Linked DNA regions of Homo sapiens. The protein of the gene in region 1 interacts with the protein of each later gene in a pairwise test. Each region holds a gene or a part of one and is shown in the gene's direction. Other genes may lie near its edges.

Region 1 (4,081 bases):
CAAGGGAGAAGCTAGAATGGAAAGGGAGGGGACCTACTGTGGGAGGGCCGGCAGGCTCCTGGGCTCTCACCATATCCTGTAGCAAGGCACAGGGGAACTGTGGTGAGCCCACTTTGCAGGGGAGCAAGGGGAGGCCCTGGGCAGGGACTAAGCTGAGCTCTGAATCACTGGGGGACTTGACTGATGCCCGGGCGCTCTCCACCCTAAAGGGAGCCATCTCTGAGACTGCACCCCAGGCAAGGGGTGGCGGAAAGGACAGCCACCTGGGTGGGGACCGCTCCAGTCTCTAGCCTGCTTTGCATGAGCATTGGAGCGGACAGACCTGGTTTGAGCGCTTTCTGTCTCGTGAGCTCCAGTGAGCCCCTTGGCTCCTCTGAGCCTTGATTTCCTCACTGTGCTTTGCCCTGGGAAACAGCTGTTCTCAAAGGTGCTCTGCCACCCCAGGCCCTTGCTCCTTTCCCTGGGTAGTTCTCCCTGCCTGGCGGGACTCACCACCAGGCTTCACCTCCACCAGGAAGCCTTCCCTGATCCCTATTGGGTATCCTCCTTGGCGATTGCCTTTTTCACGGGCAGTGGCCCCTGGACGCAAGCGTGTGCCCAGTGTGGTATAGCACCTGCTCAGAGTGGGGCCTGTGAGTGGCTGAGGAATGAGACATGGATTGCTTGTGTGACAGAGTGAGCTGTAGGGAGATGCTGGATGACCACGGATTGTGGTCGTGGTCAGGGATGCCCACCTTGGATGGGAGTTTAGGCTCATGATGGACATCACAGACAACAGGAAGGGCTTGGCACTTGGGACCCAAGGCCTGGCCTGGGGCTGCTGCTTGTGCCCACATCTGATAGGGCCTTGTCATCATAGCTGCACAACGTCACCCTGGCGCTGGAGCTGCTGAAGGACGAGGGCCTGCTCAGCTGCCCTGTCAGCCCTGAAGGTGAGTGCAAGGCAGATGCCCACACGGTGGCCAGCCCTGGGTGGCAGCCTTGTGCGAGAGCCACAGAACAGGGTGCAGGGCATTGGGGGATGAGCACGCATTGGCAGAGTCCTCTTGCCTGGCAGGGGTGGAGAATGGGCGCTTGCCAAGGTTTCTTGGGAGGGGGCACTGCAGCCCCAGGGGAAGAGGTTCTGGGGAGGGGGAGACCAAGGTCTCTGGGGACAGGTTGTCCAGAGAAGCCAGACCTTGAGGAGTTGCTGTGTTGGGGGCACCACAGGAGCATTCAGAGGAGGACTGGCCAGGAGGAGGAGGCAGTCACGCAGCAGGCGCGGGACCCAGGCCTGGAGTGACCAGCTGTCCTGGCTTCCAGGGATTCTCCTGGGATTAGCACTGAAATCCTGAATGCCAGGAAACCTTGACCACATCGGGACAGTCGGTCACTGCCACCCAGGCCTGACTGGCTGCCCTGCCCTCCTTTGGCCCGCAGATATCGTGAACAAGGATGCCAAGAGCACACTGAGGGTGCTCTATGGTCTGTTCTGCAAGCACACGCAGAAGGCACACAGGGACAGGACGCCCCATGGAGCCCCGAATTGACCCTCACTGCCTCCAAAGCCCAGAGCCTGCCTGTCAGCCCAGCTGGAGGGCCCGAGGCTGCAGGGTGTCCTCCCACAGTCCCGCTGTTTCCTGTGCATTCGTGACCCGCTTCCCTCCCACCCTGTCTCCTGTCTCCATCGTTGGATTATCTTTGAACCCCCTTGTGTGGATCATTTTGAGCCGCCTGGCCTTGCTCAGTTTATTTTAATAAAAGTATTTCTGGGAGGGATTCTGGGAACTTGACAGGGTCCTGAGGAGGGCCCTTAAACCTGCAGCCTCCCTCCCATGGGGTGAGTGTGTGTCACATCAGTCTCTCATCTCTGGGCCCAGGCTAGTGACCGCCCAGAGAGGTGGCATCACTCAGGGCTGGGGACTCTCAGGGACAGGGCCCACAGCCCCAGACCCCACCTTTTCCAGCCCAGCTCCCCACACCCACCTGCTTCTCACTCGGGAGGATGGGCCCCAGAGTCACCCTCCAGGGCAGGAGCCCGAATGGCTCCATAGCCATGCCCCCACCCACCGGGAGAAGTGGATTCAGTGACTGTCAAAGCAACCCGGGCTGTGTCCTGCAGCTGCCCTCGTGAGTTTTGCCCAAAAGTCACAAAGAAGCAATCTTCGTGGTTGATTAGTGGGTTCAGGTCATCTCCAGTCTGTCCTCGGGAGCTGTGGGTTCCCACTCGCTCCAGTGAGACTTGGCATTTTCTGCACATAAAGAAGAGTCGTGTGGGAGAATTGCACATAGTCAGTCCAGGGCATCCAGAGTGGGGCAGAGCTGATGGCTGATGGGAACCGGGGAGGAGGCTGGCGGGGAGGGGTGAGATTGGTGGGGAGGGCTGGGGCTGGCCGGGAGGGGTGGGACTGATGGGGAGGGGTGAGGCTGGCGGGGAGGGGTGAGGCTGGCGGGGAGGGGTGGGACTGGTGGGGAGGAGTGAGGCTAGTGGGCGGGTGAGGCTGGCGGGGAGGGGAGGGTTTGTGGGGACGGGTGAGGCTGGCGGGGAGGGGTGAGGCTGGTGGGGAGGGCTGGGGCCTGGTGGGGAGGAGTGGGACTTGTGGGGAGGAGTGGGACTTGTGGGGAGGGGTGAGGCTGGGGAGAAGGGCAACCACAGCCCCAGGCTGCTGCTCCTCCCTGGACCCTGAAGAGGCCTCTGGGTCTGGGGTTTTCACAGTTTGACAGCTGAGGCCTTGGGGAGGGGCTTTAGATGGGGGTTAGGGGCTAGGTCATCATTGACACCCACTGGGGGCGCCTAGGCAGATGTCCTTCGGGGGAGCAAGATGGGAGCCAGGGACGCAGTGCCAGGTCAGCCCTGGGAGCTGGTGTCTGGGTGTGAGAAGGCCTTGAGGGGTCTTCCCTTCACCTAGCCTCCCATCTGCCTGCCCTTCTCAGCTCCCAATTCACAGGGCAAACCCAAGCCCATAAGCGTGTTCCACGTGAGCACTCAGATGCACCCCTCTTCATGGATACCCACCCTACTTCCCGGCTGCCTCTGGGAAACGTGCATCCTCCCACACCAGGTACCTGGAGCCCAGCTCCTTCCACCTGCTCAGGTGCCCCCTCCATTGCGATGCCCCCTCCAGCACCTCAAATCCTCTCCTGGAGCTTCTGGGGACACAGGCTCAGCCTCTCTCAGCTGGCTTCATCCCAAAAGCCTGAAATCCAGCCCCACTTCCTGGGGCCTTTGAGTCCTCACTTGCTTGGGCCCCATCCGCTGCAGGCTGGCTCTGCCTGGCTGTTCCACGTCCTCACTCTTGTTCTATTTGACAGCAATTAAAAAAAAAGTGACTTATTTAATTACTGTAGCTTTATTGAAAAATAACTTCCCAGTTTGAAGTGTACAATTTGATGAGTTTTGACAAATGCATGCAGTCATATAACCACCACCATCGTTATCCAGACATGGGACATTCCCATCACCATGCAAGTTTCTGCATCTGTCTGCAGCCAGTTCCCTTCTCCCAGCCCCTGGCCCTGGGGACCACTGATCTGTTTTCTGTCACCATCATTTAGACTTGTCTAGAATTTCTTATAAACTGTATCCTATGGTATGTTGCTTTTTGTGTCTGATTTCTTTCACTTAGCATAATGCTATTGAGAGTATCTCCATTGTTTCTTGTATCAACAACTCATGTCCTTAGTACATTCAAAAATAAGTCCTCCAATTTTGTTCTTCATTTCAAAAATTATTTTGGTTTTTCTAGGTCTTTTTAATTCTTTTGGTTTCTACATAAAATTTAGAATCAGTTTGTCATTTTCTGCAAAAAAGCCTGCTGAAATTTTGACTGGAATTGTGTTCTTTAGATCAAACTGGGGAAAACTGACATCTTAAAAATATTGGGGAGCTAAGATCACTGATTTGAGAATATTTTTCTTTTATATAAATATTTAATGCTGGATTTTTTTTTCTAAGCACAGCTTTAGCTGCATCCCACAGATACTAATATGTTGTGTTTTCACCTTCATGAAGTTCAAAATATCTTCTAGTTTCAAATGTGACTTCCTCTTTCACTCATGGGTTATTTAGAAGTGTATAATTTCCAAATATTTTGGGATTTTT
Region 2 (7,036 bases), on another chromosome or scaffold:
TCCTGCCCTCCTCACTCTGGGAAGGGAAGCCGTCCCCGCCCCCCACCCCCTCTCCAGGAGCCAGCTAGCTGCACCCCAAGACCCCCACCTCGGGCTCAGCCCACAGCTCCCAGGAGCCAGCCCTGTGGGCAGGGAGTGGCTGGGCCAGGTTTCCCTTCTACTGACTCACCATGACCTTGAGTAAGTCACTTCCCCTCTGGGGTGTCACTTCCCCATACACAGTATAAGGGGTTGATTTAGTTGGATTGAACTAAAGGTGAGGGAGTGGCTCAGGGTGTCTCCAGGTGGGCTGACCCCTCAGTTGGGCCCCCATGCTCAGCAGAGGTGGCCCACAGTGGTGGAGCCTTAGGGTCAGAGACACTTCCTGGCTCTGCCTCTTACTAGCTGGGTGACTTGAGGCAAGTTGTTTAACCTCTCTGTGTACATTTGCAAGTGCAAAATGGGTAAAATCCCAGATTACTCCACAAGGTTGTTGGAAGATTCAGTGTCAATATGTAGCATAGTTGGTGCTCAATAAACTGAAGCAAGTCTTCTTATCTAGCGAGTGAGGAAGGGGCCGCCGAGCTCTCTTAGCCTTCTGACCTCCTACGCAAGCAAGAGGTCATGTTGAGCCCAGCTCGCCTTTCTTTTCCCAGTGCTGTCAAGCTCTGTGCCTGGCTGCCCTGCCCTCTGACATCTCTCTGAAACCTCTTGCCTCCCCTCTCCCTGCCTCAGCTCAGTCTGTGCACTGACCCACCTGAGGAGCCTCCTGGGGCCACTGGCAGCCTGGACCCCCCCAGATCCCCCCCACCCAGTGAAATTGTCTTCCAGCACTGCCTCACAAAAGCCTACTTGATGCAGTGCCAGGCCTCTTGCCAGATGGCTGGGTGGTCCCTTAGGCTTGGACCCAGTCAAGCTGCCCTGCCTGTGTTGCTGGGGCTGGGCTAGAGGCCTGGAAGGGGTTTATCAGGGTCACCCTCTCAGGGCCTGGGAGATACCCAATCCCAGACATTAAAACTGCCAGTAGCCCCTCTACCTTCAAAGCCAAGTCCTGGTCCCTTCCCCTGGCATTCAAAGCCATCGTAAGTGAACTCTCACCCGCTAGGCAGCACACGCCATTCTCCTTTACCGAGGCCCACCGCTTCCTCAAAGTCATTCCTGATGGTCTCAGCTCATGCTGGTGGCAGCCATTTCTCCCAGCCTACTGTCTCTACTCATTGCCACAGGAACCAGGGACTCCCAGCTCAAGAGCCTGAAGGATTGGGGTCAGGGGAAATTGGCAGTCGAGGGCTTGGGAGTGACAGCCATGTATGGCCTACGAAGTCCCAGCTGTCAACTTAGGTCCCATTCAGGCAGTGTTCACAGGGAACCGGGAGATAACAGGGCCTGTTCCTGGCTCTCAAAGGGTCCCAGCAGACCCCTATAGATGGCCCCCGACAGGGTGCTGGGGGGTGAGAGGTCCATAAGAGCCCCCGGTGGTTTCGGGGAGGAAGCTGCCCCCTGCATGGGCCAGAGGGCATATCTGGTAGGTGGAGTGGCCTGGGCAGGAGGCCAGCAGGAGCCTCAAAAGGCAATGGTCCTCCTGAAACACTTGGGCTTTAGCCTGAGCGTGGCTGTTTGTGGACATCATAGCAATTTCTGGACTGTGGGGGAGGGTGGTGGCGGTGAATAGATAAGCATCGTGACTGGGGAAGCTCAGGTGAGCACCACCTGAGGGAGAGGGTCTGGCAGTGAATAAATAAGCAGTGTGACTGGGAAATTGTGAAGCTCAGGTGAGCGCCACCACCTCCTGGGTTGCTTTAGTGTCCAGCAGCTGCCTAGAACTATGTTGAATGAAGAGCTCTCTGGGTTCTGGAAGTGGGACAGCTTTGGGTGGGGCAGTGTTACCACCGTCAGCCTGGCTTGGGTCTGCAGGGTCCAGGGCCTCGGTCACTTTGCTTCTCTCTCCACAGCTCACTCCTGGGGGCAAAGCGGCGCAGGCCGGAGTGGCCGTGGGTGACTGGGTGCTGAGCATCGATGGCGAGAATGCGGGTAGCCTCACACACATCGAAGCTCAGAACAAGATCCGGGCCTGCGGGGAGCGCCTCAGCCTGGGCCTCAGCAGGTATGCGGGTGGACATGGATGGGTGCGCCCGCGCTGGCAGTGGGGATCCCTGCGGGCCCGGCCCGCTGTCACGCTTTCCTTCTCCTCCAGGGCCCAGCCGGTTCAGAGCAAACCGCAGAAGGTACGAGGCTGGCCGGGACATCCGGGCGGTGGGCGGTGTGGGCTTGGACGGCCAGGCCTGCTCGCCCTCCTGGCACATTCTCGGTACCCCAATCCCTGGCCGGGAGTGGAGGGCAGAAACCGGAGCTAAGGCGGGTCTAGGGCCCTGGAGTTGAGCCAGGGGCTGCTGCACGGTCCTGGCACCACGCATGTCCGCCTGTCTGTCCGCCTGTCTGTCCGCCTGCTGCCTCCCGCCGCCGGCGCTGCGTGCTCGCCCGCACTCGGTCAGCCCTCGGTCCTGCGTGGACTGAGATCGCCACTCCCAAATGGGCCCCTTGAAACCTGAGTCGTCCTCTCCCCGTAGCCTCCAAATAGATGTAGGGGGTGGGGTGGGGGTGGGGGGCTGGAGCTGCCGCTGTCCTCTGCTGCAGGCGCCCCACTTCCACCCAGGCCCCCACCTTACCCTGCCCGCCCGCCCTGCCCGGCTGTGTCTCTGCCCAGGCCTCCGCCCCCGCCGCGGACCCTCCGCGGTACACCTTTGCACCCAGCGTCTCCCTCAACAAGACGGCCCGGCCCTTTGGGGCGCCCCCGCCCGCTGACAGCGCCCCGCAGCAGAATGGGTACGTCGGCCCCTGCCCGCCCGCGCCCACGCCATCAGGCCCACTGTGGCCCCACGCCCGCTGCCCGCTGCTGCTCAGTCTGTGCTGCGCCCCAGCCCGGCGGAACCGTGCGGCAGCGCCCCCTGGCGGCCGGGGTGGGGCTGCAGGCACAGGGCCCCTCCCGAGGCTGTGGCGCCTTGCAGGGCACCGCCCTGGGGAGGGGTCTCTGAATGACGCCGCGCCCCCTGCTGGCGGCTGGGGGTTGGGTTGTGGTGTCGGGCCAGCTGAGCCCCAGACACTCAGTGCCGCCTTGTCCCCGGCTGTTCTGACCCCTCCCCGTCTTTCTTCCTCTCCTGTGTCTGTCCCTTTGTCCCTTTATCTGTCTGTCTGTCTTATTTCCTTCACAGGTGCAGACCCCTGACAAGTCAGTGAGCCCCCCTCTGCCTGTGCCTTTCTTCTTCCTTTTGGCACTCTGGGTGGCGGCCCCTCCCCACCCTGGCTGCCCTCCTCTCCACTTCGCCCTCCTGTCCTCTCACCTACCCGCCCAGCAGGGCTCCTGGCCTCACCCTTACCCACTCCCTCCCATCACTGTAACCCAAACCCACATGCACCAAATCCTGGGAGGGGCTGCCCCCACCGCCCACCCCCAGTGTGGGGTTCTGAGCCACACCCTCCCCACAGACAGCCGCTCCGACCGCTGGTCCCAGATGCCAGCAAGCAGCGGCTGATGGAGAACACAGAGGACTGGCGGCCGCGGCCGGGGACAGGCCAGTCGCGTTCCTTCCGCATCCTTGCCCACCTCACAGGCACCGAGTTCAGTAAGTGCCAGCCCAGGGCAGGGGGTACTTTCCTCGCCCCCAGCCCAGGCGTGATCCCTGACCCTGTGTCTTTTTTGGTCAATGCCTGCCTCTGCCCTCTCAGTGCAAGACCCGGATGAGGAGCACCTGAAGAAATCAAGGTACAGGGACGGGCACCAGCCCCTCTCCCACCTCCTGCCTCTTCCATTCCAGCTACTGCCCTGTGTCTACTCCTGAGGCTCCCAGCTGGGGCTCTCAATTCTCCCTTCCTTCCTTCCTTCCTTCCTTCCTTCCTTCCTTCCTTCCTTCCTTCCTTCCCTTCCTCCTTCCTTCCTTCTTTCATTTCTTCCCTCCCTCCTTCCTTCCCTCCTCCCTCCCTGCCTCCCTTCCATCTCTCCTTCCTTCCACTTCTTCCTCCCTCTCTCTCTGCCCCTCAGGGAAAAGTATGTCCTGGAGCTGCAGAGCCCACGCTACACCCGCCTCCGGGACTGGCACCACCAGCGCTCTGCCCACGTGCTCAACGTGCAGTCGTAGCCCGGCCCTCTCCAGCCGGCTGCCCTCTCTGCCTCCCTCTTTCTGTTCCTCCTGCCCAGGGCACCCCCTTAGTGCCTCCAGCTTCTGCCTACCTCACCCCCCCTTTCGTGCCCCTGGCCTGAGCCTCCTGCTGGCCTGGCCCTGGCCGCCCACCTGGGTTCATCTGACACTGCCTTCCCTCTTTGCCCTGTGGTACTGCTGTCTGCCAGGTCTGTGCTGCCTTGGGCATGGAATAAACATTCTCAGCCCTGCTTGCTCTGCCTGTCTTCTATCTTTGTGGACCTGGTTTGCATTTGGGGTGTGGGGGTGTTTCGTGGTTCGGACTGTTTGGGCCCTGCCGTCCTCGTTTTCAGTGGGAGGGGGTACCTGGCAAAGGGGCCCTGCCCTGCCATCACAGATGGCTTCCTGGCATGAGGGGAACCCCAGGAGCTGCCTCAGAAGCGGGAGCCCTGCCTCGTCTCCCAGCTAGAGACCGCACACCAGCTAACTGGACATTGCTAGGAGAAGCTGCCCTTCCCATCCCTACCCCAGTGGGACCTGGAATCCAACTCGGCAGTTTCCACGCCCCCAGTCATCTCCCGTGGGGCCAGCAGGACCCAGGTTGGGGGGTGGGGCCATGTCAGGAAGCTCAGCCATGCAGGGCCTTGAATGGCAGATCTTGCAGCCAGGTGCCCAGGACAGAAGCCCCAGCCCCAGCCTCATCTACACCCCAGGAGCCCTGGCCTGGTGAGAGGGAGTGGGCTCGGGCCTGGGCAAGGGTGGGCAGCCTCCAGGGGCATGGGGGTGGTGGGCTTCTCTCAGCTGCCTGGGGCTCCACCCCCGTCCTTTGGGGTCCCTGGGCACCCCTTTAGAGTCACTTTCCCCGGCAGGCCCTACCGCCCCCAGCCCTACCAGCCGCCCGCCCTGGGCTGTGGACCCTGCGTTTGCCGAGCGCTATGCCCCGGACAAAACGAGCACAGTGCTGACCCGGCACAGCCAGCCGGCCACGCCCACGCCGCTGCAGAGCCGCACCTCCATTGTGCAGGCAGCTGCCGGAGGGGTGCCAGGAGGGGGCAGCAACAACGGCAAGACTCCCGTGTGTCACCAGTGCCACAAGGTCATCCGGTGGGTGGCCTGTTCCTGTCCGACCCTGGCTTTCCCATCCTGCAGCCCAGCCCCACCTGTCTGCCCACCTGTCTTGCCTCAGCTGCGACTGGGGGGAATAAGGATTCAGTTCTCAGCTGGAGTAGGAGTAGGGACCTGGGCTGGGTCCTCCCATTCTTAATCCCACGCTACCTACCCCAGCCCACCCACAACAACTGCTAGCAGCATCTGCCGTGGCGAAATAGCCGAAGGGCCAACCATAGGCTGAAGCTGCACCCCTACCTTTGCTGCTCTCTGGGCAAAGAGGGGCCTGCCCCCTCCCAGCGCGTCTGCCCCTCCCTCCTGCTCTCTGTCTCCCTCTGCTCTCAGAGCATACAGGCCTGGAGCCACTCCCTCTGTGCACTGCCCCGTGGGGCCAAGCAGCATCAAACACCCCCCAGCATCAGCGTGCCGGATTCTAGAGCCTTCCTAATTCGCAGGCCTGGCCTGCTCTCATCTCTGTCAGCTCTTTTTTTTTTTTTTTTGAAACAGAGTCTCACTGTGTTGCCCACGTTGGCGTGCAGTGGCGCGATCTCGGCTCACTGCAACCTCTGCCTCCTGGGTTCAAGAGATTCTCCTGCCTCAGCCTCCTGAGTAGCTGGGATTACAGGCACCCGCCACCATGCCTGGCTAATTTTGTATTTTTAGTAGAGACGGGGTTTTACCATGTTGGCCAGGCTGGTCTCAAACTCCTCACCTCAGGTGATCTCAGGCCTGCCTTGGCCTCCCAAAGTGCTGGGACTACAGGTGTGAGCCACTGTGCCCAGCCGACTCTATCAGCTCTTGCCAGGTAGAACAGGCAGGCCAGCAGGACAGGGCAGCTCCAGGGTTTGCCCAGGGGCGGCTCAGCTTTTATGAGGCTCCAGTCGTCAGCCCTTCCTCCCGGGGTCCTCCCTGCTCTAAAGCTGCCTCTCCTGTCACCAGCAGTTCAGTGTGGCGGACTGGCTCTGTAAGCTTCACGGCTGCCACGGTCACTTCCCAAGCCTGTCTTCTATCCTATGTGGAAAATGGGGAGAATGAACTGTCCCTCCCAAGGCCTCCTGGTGGGTGGTCAGTCAACCTGAAGGGGGCCAAGACCCCCACCTCTCTGCGTGTGCTCCCTCTGACCGCTCTCGCCTCCCTGCAGGGGCCGCTACCTGGTGGCGCTGGGCCACGCGTACCACCCGGAGGAGTTTGTGTGTAGCCAGTGTGGGAAGGTCCTGGAAGAGGGTGGCTTCTTTGAGGAGAAGGGCGCCATCTTCTGCCCACCATGCTATGACGTGCGCTATGCACCCAGCTGTGCCAAGTGCAAGAAGAAGATTACAGGCGTGAGTAGGGCTGGCTGGCGGGGAGGTGGTCCCAAGCCTGTCAGTGGGAACGAGGGCTGCTGGGAAACCCACAGTCCAGGTCTCTCCCCGAGTGAGCCCTCCGGGTCCTTACCAGCGTAATAAATGGGCTGCTGTACTGGCCTCACCCTGCATTAGTCAGGATGCTCTTAACAAATGACCATGTTCCTGCTCAGAAACCGCCCAAGGCTGCAAAGAGCAGGAGGACCAAGCCAGGAGAAGCCCTGGGCCCTCCTGACTCCCACTTTGGGCTCTCCCTGCCCTGGTGAAATGACAGAACGGCCAACTTGACACGCTGAAGCTGCTCTGTCTCATGCGTCCTCCTCATTTCTGGATCCAGAGCCAGGGCTGCCAGGAGTAGCCAGAGAGCTCTGTGTGGTGATGTTCATATTAGTGAGGTTTACCTTGACCACGAGCAGTGGGAAACTCAAAATAATGGTGGCTTATTTCTCATCTAAAAACATCCCGGGGTGGGTG

Evidence for each region. Proteins that work in one complex are often made in the same cells at the same time.
Region 2: the proteins of PARVG (region 1) and PDLIM7 interact in binary tests that used the Homo sapiens proteins (3 or more experiments, as listed by UniProt).

Annotation. Positions count from the first base shown.
Region 1 is NC_000022.11:44,204,898-44,208,978, forward strand, and holds the end of PARVG (gamma-parvin), read left to right. Parts: intron 1-859; coding exon 860-932; intron 933-1,419; coding exon 1,420-1,529; 3' UTR 1,530-3,572; downstream 3,573-4,081. UniProt on the Homo sapiens protein: Plays a role with ILK in promoting the cell adhesion and spreading of leukocytes.
Region 2 is NC_000005.10:177,487,573-177,494,608, reverse strand, and holds part of PDLIM7 (PDZ and LIM domain protein 7), read left to right. Parts: intron 1-1,931; coding exon 1,932-2,083; intron 2,084-2,173; coding exon 2,174-2,204; intron 2,205-2,683; coding exon 2,684-2,802; intron 2,803-3,188; coding exon of another isoform or gene 3,189-3,205; intron 3,206-3,462; coding exon 3,463-3,599; intron 3,600-3,702; coding exon 3,703-3,739; intron 3,740-4,015; coding exon of another isoform or gene 4,016-4,112; exon of another isoform or gene 4,113-4,363; intron 4,364-4,577; exon of another isoform or gene 4,578-4,776; coding exon 4,777-4,838; intron 4,839-4,981; coding exon 4,982-5,216; intron 5,217-6,360; coding exon 6,361-6,541; intron 6,542-7,036. UniProt on the Homo sapiens protein: May function as a scaffold on which the coordinated assembly of proteins can occur. May play a role as an adapter that, via its PDZ domain, localizes LIM-binding proteins to actin filaments of both skeletal muscle and nonmuscle tissues.